Homo sapiens: one gene and its partner. The protein of the gene in region 1 interacts with the protein of each later gene in a pairwise test. Each region holds a gene or a part of one and is shown on either strand. Other genes may lie near its edges. The genes, in order: CDC14B and DLC1.

Evidence for each region.
Region 2: the proteins of CDC14B (region 1) and DLC1 interact in a two-hybrid assay, tested with the Homo sapiens proteins (one large-scale study listed by BioGRID and IntAct).

What each region holds. Positions count from the first base shown.
Region 1 is NC_000009.12:96,518,830-96,522,650, forward strand, and holds part of CDC14B (dual specificity protein phosphatase CDC14B), read right to left. Parts: intron 3,775-3,821; coding exon 3,677-3,774; intron 1-3,676.
Region 2 is NC_000008.11:13,088,271-13,092,091, forward strand, and holds part of DLC1 (rho GTPase-activating protein 7), read right to left. Parts: intron 3,163-3,821; coding exon 3,048-3,162; intron 2,201-3,047; coding exon 1,982-2,200; intron 435-1,981; coding exon 217-434; intron 1-216. UniProt on the Homo sapiens protein: Functions as a GTPase-activating protein for the small GTPases RHOA, RHOB, RHOC and CDC42, terminating their downstream signaling.

The DNA of each region.
Region 1 (3,821 bases):
CCTCATGGCTTAAGAATTATTTTCCGGCCGGGTGCAGTGGCTCACACCTGTAATCCCAGCACTTTGGGAGGCCAAGGTGGGCAGATCACGAGGTCAGGAGATCGAGACCATCCTGGCTAACACAGTGAAACCCTGTCTCTACTAAAAATACAAAAATTTAGCCGGGCGTGGTGGTGGGCGCCTGTATTCCCAGCTACTTGGGAGGCTGAGGCAGGAGAATGGCATGATCCCAGGAGGCGGAGCTTGCAGTGAGCCGAGATCGCACCACTTTACTCCAGCCTGGGCGACAGGGCGATACTCTGTCTCAAAAATAAAAATAAAAAATAAAAATAAAAAAAGAATTATTTTCCATTGCTAACAGATATACTCATCTCCAAACCTACCAAAACCATCAGTATGCAGAACGACAGGCCTCATGGCTCAAGTTATGCAATCTACCAAATCCATTTTAGCACAGACAATATACTTGTCATCACGTCCTGAAGATCAGCTCAATGTCATGGTGCCACATGGTTTCCTGTCATCATTGTAGTCAGGATCAGACAGGCTGAGCAAATGGCCATTTTATAATCACTAAAAACTTAAACTCTCCCCCAAAACTGACCATTTATAAAAGAGAAACCGGCCAGGCGCCGGTGGTTCATGCCTGTAATCCTAGCACTTTGGGAGGCTGAGGTGGGTGTACCACTTGAGGTCAGGATTTCGAGACCAGCCTGGCCAACATGGTGAAACCTTGTCTCTACTAAAAATACAAAAAATTAGCTGGGTGTGGTGGTGCATAATCCCAGATACTCCGGAGGCTCAGGCAGCAGAATCACTTGAACCTGGGAGGCAGAGGTTGCAGTGAGCCGAGGGCACACCATTGCACTCCAGCCCGGCCAACAGAGCAAGACTCTGTCTTAAAAAAAAAAAAAAAAAAAAAAAGAGAAACCAATCATTGGAATAATATTTTATGTACTATAACCTTCTCCTAAGAATCACTAGTACTTGTGTATTTCTCACTAACTTTCCTTCTTGCATGTACTGTATTTTCATAAGGCTAAGTGCCAATGCTAAAGCAAAATAACTTGCTCACAGAAATCAATGAGTCAAACTTGGATGAAGAAATTGATTTTGTATTTTTCAACCCAAGCAACTGTTGAGAACAGTCCCTCAGGGACTTCTATTCCTAAAATAACAACATAGACACAAGAGGGAAAGAAAGAAAATCTTCAATTGATCTTTTCTAGGGCCAAAAAACTGCAAATAATAGCAGAGAGGGTTTGAAAAAGCAGAGACGGGGATAAGCAAAATGTTGTAAGGGAGGAGGAAGGAGATTTGCTGAGACTCATCAAAAATCCCCTCGGGTCTATACACATAACTCAGAGCTTAGAAAAACTAGCATTTCGCTTTCTTCTTTAAAAGTGTGGCCTAAAACTTTGTTATTTGTGTTATGTGGGGCTATTTATATATATTGTTTTTGGGATATTACCAAAAGGAATCCTGAGCTACCTCTTTGTTTTTTAACTTTTACCATTGTACTTGATTTTACTTATTTATTTAGACAGGGTCTCACTCTGTCACCCAGGCTGGATGCAGTGATCATGGCTCACTGCAGCCTCAGACTCCTGGGCTCAAGTAGTCCTGTTGCCTCAGCCTCCCGCATAGCCTGGTCTACAGGTGCGCACAGCCACGCCCAGCTAGATTTGAACTCACGTTAATGAGAGTAGCAGATTCAGAGGGTGACTAAAGGAAATTTCCTATTTAACAAAAACTTTTGACTAAGCAGGATTTGTATCCCCTGACTCTCAACTTGACTTTTGAACAGCAGGCAACAAAATATTAAAACATAAACTGATGATGCTGATTCTGAAAAACAAAACAAAAAATCCCAGACACAGCTAAAATCAACCCACAAAAGCATCAGTTTCCTAGGGCTTGCAATTCAATGTGTGGTCCCTGGACCAGCAGCCTCGGATAGAAATGTGAACTCTTGGGCCCCACCCCCACCCCACCAATCATAACCCATATTTCAACAAGCGCCCGGGTGCCTCCTGCACACTGAAGTCTGAGAAGCACTGCTCGAGGGTGCTGCCTGCCTCCTCCACCACATCCAGAATTAGTATCTGGATGATTACCTGGAGCCACCATAATACTTCCAAAGAAAAACCATTAAGGCCTTAGGTGAAGACTTTTAATAAGGAAATTAAAAACAAAATGGCATTTGGAGTTAAGTAAATTATACAAAGGCACTATTTTTGTTTGTTTGTTTGTTTTTTGAGATAGAGTCTCACTCTGTCACCCAGGCTGGAGTGCAATGGCACGATCTCGGCTCAATGCAATCTCTGCCTCCCGGGTTCAAGCGATCCTCCTGCCTCACCCTCCCGAGTAGCTGGGATCCTATAATGCCTACAGCTCCCACCATCATGCCCGGCTAGTTTTTGTATTTTTGTAGAGACGGGGTTTCACCATATTGGCCAGGCTGGTCTTGAACTCCTGACCTCAGGTGATCTGCCCACCTTGGCCTCCCAAAGTGCTGGGATTACAGGCATGAGCCACCACACCTGGCCAAAAGGCACCATTTTTAAAAAAGTATAGTTGACTAAAGTACCACTAAGTTGCAAAAGAAATGCTTAATAAATGCCTATAATCAAAATGGATGCCCTACATTCATTCACATAACACTGCATATTGTAAAACTCAATTCTTTGCCTTGGGTCTTTTAAGAAGAACCTCCCAGGGGAGCAACCCATAATGACACATGCCTTAGGTGTAATTCTACTTCAGAATTTTTATGACGAGACACTAGTGAGGAATTACTTTTAATTGAAAAGAAAACCTGTTCTCTGCCAATATAAATGGTATATTATATCATACTTCCTTACCATATTACAAGATGCTTACTGAATAAATGATCTATGTCCATCACACTCCCTCCCCGCAAAAAAGAAGGCTGGAAATCTGGTGTCCCACAATGAAAAAGGAAGTAACTAGAAGGAAGAAATCCAATGGCAACAAGTGGGAGCATTTACTAAAGAACAGCCTACAAAAAATACCATGGTCATGTACTTTGCTTCTGCATATTTTTCTAACAATCTTGGATGCTCCATCAGGTTGAATCCCAACTAACACACATTCACAAGAATGTACACATAGACATACATACACTCAGTACTACAACATTTCCTATTCTCAGGCTAAATCTTCCTCTATAATTAGAAAATCATTCCCCAAAGAAACAAACGAAAAACCCAAAATATAGTTTAGACCAGTTCATTGTTGCCCCAAAACAACATAATGTCATTAAGCCATCATGTCATGCTTATCAAAACAAATGATCTGCAACATGGCAAATGTAAAGAAATACACCACTTTAGTAACTATGGACAAGTCTGGCATCCTGGGCTTTACATCTGCTGTCGCGCTCCTGAGGATGCCCCATGCTGATTATTCATGGAGAAAAAGTATCCCTGATGTCGCCTTCCCACCCATAAAGGCTCATGAGGACCAAGGTAAACAAGGGACAGCTGAGAGCTTCCAAGGCCAGCACCCCTAGGTTTTAAATAACATAGGCAAGCATTTCAAAGTGGCATCATGGGCTTGCAACTATGGAGAAAAATGTACAGGAAAAACCCTCACCAAGGACCCCACACACATATGAAGAAACATCAACCACAACAAAGGAACCCAGACTCACGTGAGAGGAATAGCGTTTGTTTTGGATTGTCTTCTGCTTTTCAAGGCCCGAAGTCTATCACCTTGTGTCACTCCATTGATTTCGTCATCATCACTGTACTGTGTAAGTAAAAAAACACTGAGCTAATGATTTAAGTTGCACTTAT
Region 2 (3,821 bases), on another chromosome or scaffold:
AGGGTCTTGCTATATTACCCAGGCTGGTCTTGAACTGCTGGCCTCAAGTGATCCTCCCACCTTGGCCTCCCAGAGTGCTGGGATTACAGGTGTGAGCCACCATATGCCCGGCCTCTACTTTAAATAATTATACCATCTTGTAAGATCAGTGACATATAGGCTTGGTTCATATATGGAGTCATCCTTGTCACAAAAAAACAACTGGGAAGCGCTCACCTTAAAACAACGTAGTCTCGAGCAGGATGAGGTGCCATACTGTTTTGGACATACTGGTAAATTTCAGTTTGGCTGTCCAGAATTTCGATCACTTTTGAATCCAACAGGTCTACATCCCAGAGGTGCTGTTCTTTAAGTAGGCGCTTTAAGATTTCCTCTGGCACAGCAGGGACTTCAATGACTGACCTCCAAAGCCTCAGAGGGGGTCCTTCGCTCACCTGGAAAGAGGATGTATTTTTCAGTGCCAAGGCAATCCATACACACCTAGTTTTTGAAGTCGAATTGTTAGTTAGACTAACAATTTTAGTTACATATAATCAACGTTAATTGATTAAATGATATAAATAATACTATATAATCAGTATATAAAGAAATATTGGGGGCTAATAAATCTATGACTTAAATAGGCTGCTGTCCCCAAGCATATTTAAGAGCAAGCCAGAAAGTGAAAAAAAGCTGTTGTCAACTCGAGTCAAAATGATGACATTTGAGCCGGGTGCAGTGGCTCATTCCTGTAATCCCAGCACTTTGGGAAGCCGAGGCGGGTGGATCATCTGAGGTCAGGAGTTCAAGACCAGCCTGGCCAACATGGTGAAACCCTGTCTCTACTAAAAATATGGAAATTAGCCAGGCGTGGTGGCAGGCACCTGTAAGTCCAGCTACTCAGGAGGCTGAGGAAGGAGAATCACTTGAACCTAGGAGGCACTTTGCAGTGAGCTGAGATCACACCACTGCACTCCAGCCTGGGTGATGAGAATGAAACTCCATCTCAAAAGAAAAAAGAAAAAAATGATGACATTTGTTTTTTTTTTTCTGGGACCTATATCAGAGTGCATGCAATAAAGAAATATCAGTCACTGGCAGGGCATGGTGGCTCACGCCTATAATCCCAGCACTTTGGGAGGCCAAGGTGGGCAGTCACAAGGTCAGGAGTTCGAGACCAGCCTGGCCAATATGGTGAAACCCCGTCTCTACTAAAAATACAAAAATTAGCATGGCGTGGTGGTGGGCACCTGTAGCGCCAGCTACTCGGGAGGCTGAGGCAAGAGAATAGCTTGAAACCGGGAGGCAGAGGTTGCAGTGAGCCGAGATCATGCCACTGCACTCCAGCCTGGGTGACAGAGCAAGACTCCATCTCAAAAAATATAAATAAATAAAAACAAAAACATCAGACATTTGCACTCATTTCCAAAGCCGGCAAGGCCACCCAGCCTACTCCCACTGTTTGTTTATTTTCAAGATGGTAGAGGCGGCATCAACATATACCTCCGATGGACCTATCCTGCTGAGCCTTACAAGATGCCTCTGCCCTCAAGAGGTTTACCAGTCCTAACTGGAGTTAATTTCCCCCTAAGGGATCCCCGCTCATTAAAGGGCCAAGAGAACAGTAACTAAGAACAGAGAAGAGTGCAAAGGGATTCTGACCAAATTATGGAAAAATCGAAGCGTGTCATAGGATGTTCCGCATCTCAATGCCATTAGCAAAACATTCTAGGGAAGTCTAGTGTGATTCTGTAGAGCCAAAGGAGTTCATTAGAAATAGTTGAAATCCTCTCCCAAGTGTTACACAGGAAGAAAATTACTCTTGCTTTGCCCGGTTTCCACTCTCACCACGGGGATCTTACTCACCCCGGTGCCCAGCTCTACAAGGGAGGTTGTGGGCTACAGATCCCCAGACAGATTAGTTGGCAAAAGCGTGTTATCTCTGATGGACCCAAGCTTCGACTCCTGGACTCAACTAGCCGACAACAGGGTGAAGCCTTACCTTCTTATAGGACAGCTCAGCCTGCTCCGAAGTGGAGTAGCTGACCCAGCCTTTAAACTTCTCTTTGACTTCTTTAAACAGGCCATCCACACAGTCCTGGAGGAAGTGTTGGTAGTCAGCTGAGTCATCATTACCCAGGTGCCCGAGTGCTTCCAGAGTGAGGGGCTTCAGCTCTTGTTCGGTATAGGAATTACGACATCGGCTCATTTCCTCGGGAACCTGTGCGGAACATGACAGACAGAAAGGAGGTGAGTCCACCTGTACTCAATCTCAATGCCCATCAGTGGAAAAGACTGGGTAGGAACAATGGCCTGGTCCTTAAAGCAGTGCAGGCATCTTCCCGCCGGAGGTGGGCTATCATGCTGACCGCACGTGTTATCACGAGGATATGAACAGATCACCTCCATAAATGTATCTGAAATCTTATTTCCATGTAAGGTCTTTGGAAAGTTAGAGTAGGGGGAGTGAATTACATTGGTCAAAGCAGGTTTCTCAGATACGGAAGTGGATACAGCAGTTTAATTCCAGATAATTTGTTGCTTTTTCTTTCTTTCTTTCTTTTTTTTTTTTTTGAGAGAGAGTTTCATTCTGTTACCTAGTGGAGTGCAGTGGCAAAATATTGGTTCATTGCAACCTCCACATCCCTGGGCTCAGGTGATCCTCCCACCTCAGCCTCCCAAGTAGTTGAGACTACAGGTGTGCACCACCACACCCGGCTAATTTTTAAATTTTTTTTTGTAGAGATGAGGTCTCACCATGTTGCCCGGGTTGGTCTTGAACTCCGGAGCTCAAGTGATCCACCCACCTCAGCCTCCCAAAGTGTTAGAATTACAGGCGTGAGCCACTGCGCCCGGCTGCTTTTCCAAGTAAAGGGACAATTTCATTAAACATGATTAACTCTAGCTGATACATTATAATATATGTAAATAAGACATTCTCAGGCTATTTATACCGTCTCCAGCTGTGGAAAAGGTCTTCAGGTAAGACATGAACAAGGGTCAAGCCTAAGATTTTGTACCTATTCACATTATCCTTAATAAAGGAGCCAAACTTCTCAATTCCTTACCTGGAAAAGCTTCTTGCACTCGGCGATCATATGGGCCAGCCCTTGAGTGGCAGCTAGGTTTTCATTCAAATCTTTCTGATCTGGTTTGCCCAAACTTTGTTTTCTTTGCATTACCCTAGGTAGAAGAAATACAGGAGGGGAACAGTTCAAATATTTATATATTTTTCTTCAAGGTATTATTCAAGGAAACCCAAAGAAGAGAGAAAAAAAAATTTTCACTGGAATCTGTTTATTGTTAAGTGGATTAAGAGTGTTTTTACTTTGGTCACCAGAGTATCTCAGAGTTTTGTCAACAACACACAAAAAAACATTAAAGAGATATGCTTTTGATGAAATCCAGGTGATTCAAACCATTTAATTAAATAGGTTCCTACTGGGAACAGGGCAGCTTGTAGGGGCTGTGTTTGCATGGTGGGGGAGCAACTTCTGAGGAGTGTGGGAAAGGAGTCCCAGGGAGTTGGAGTAAAGGGTGTCATCATCTTTATCTGCCTGAATACACAGGCCCCCTCCCACAGGTGAGGGCTAAGTCCATTGTTTCCTTGACCTTTTGTCTTCATCTTATTTGATCTCTCTCCTCTACTCATCTCTAGCTCTGTATCCCATTGCAGTTGGAATGCCCCAGTCAACTTTAAGAACTATTTAAATGTGGCCGGGCGCAGTGGCTCACGCCTGTAATCCCAGCACTTTGGGAGGCTAAGCCGGGTGGATCATAAGGTCAGGAGCTCGAGACCAGCCTGGCCAACATGGTGAAACCCCGTCTCTACTAAAAATATA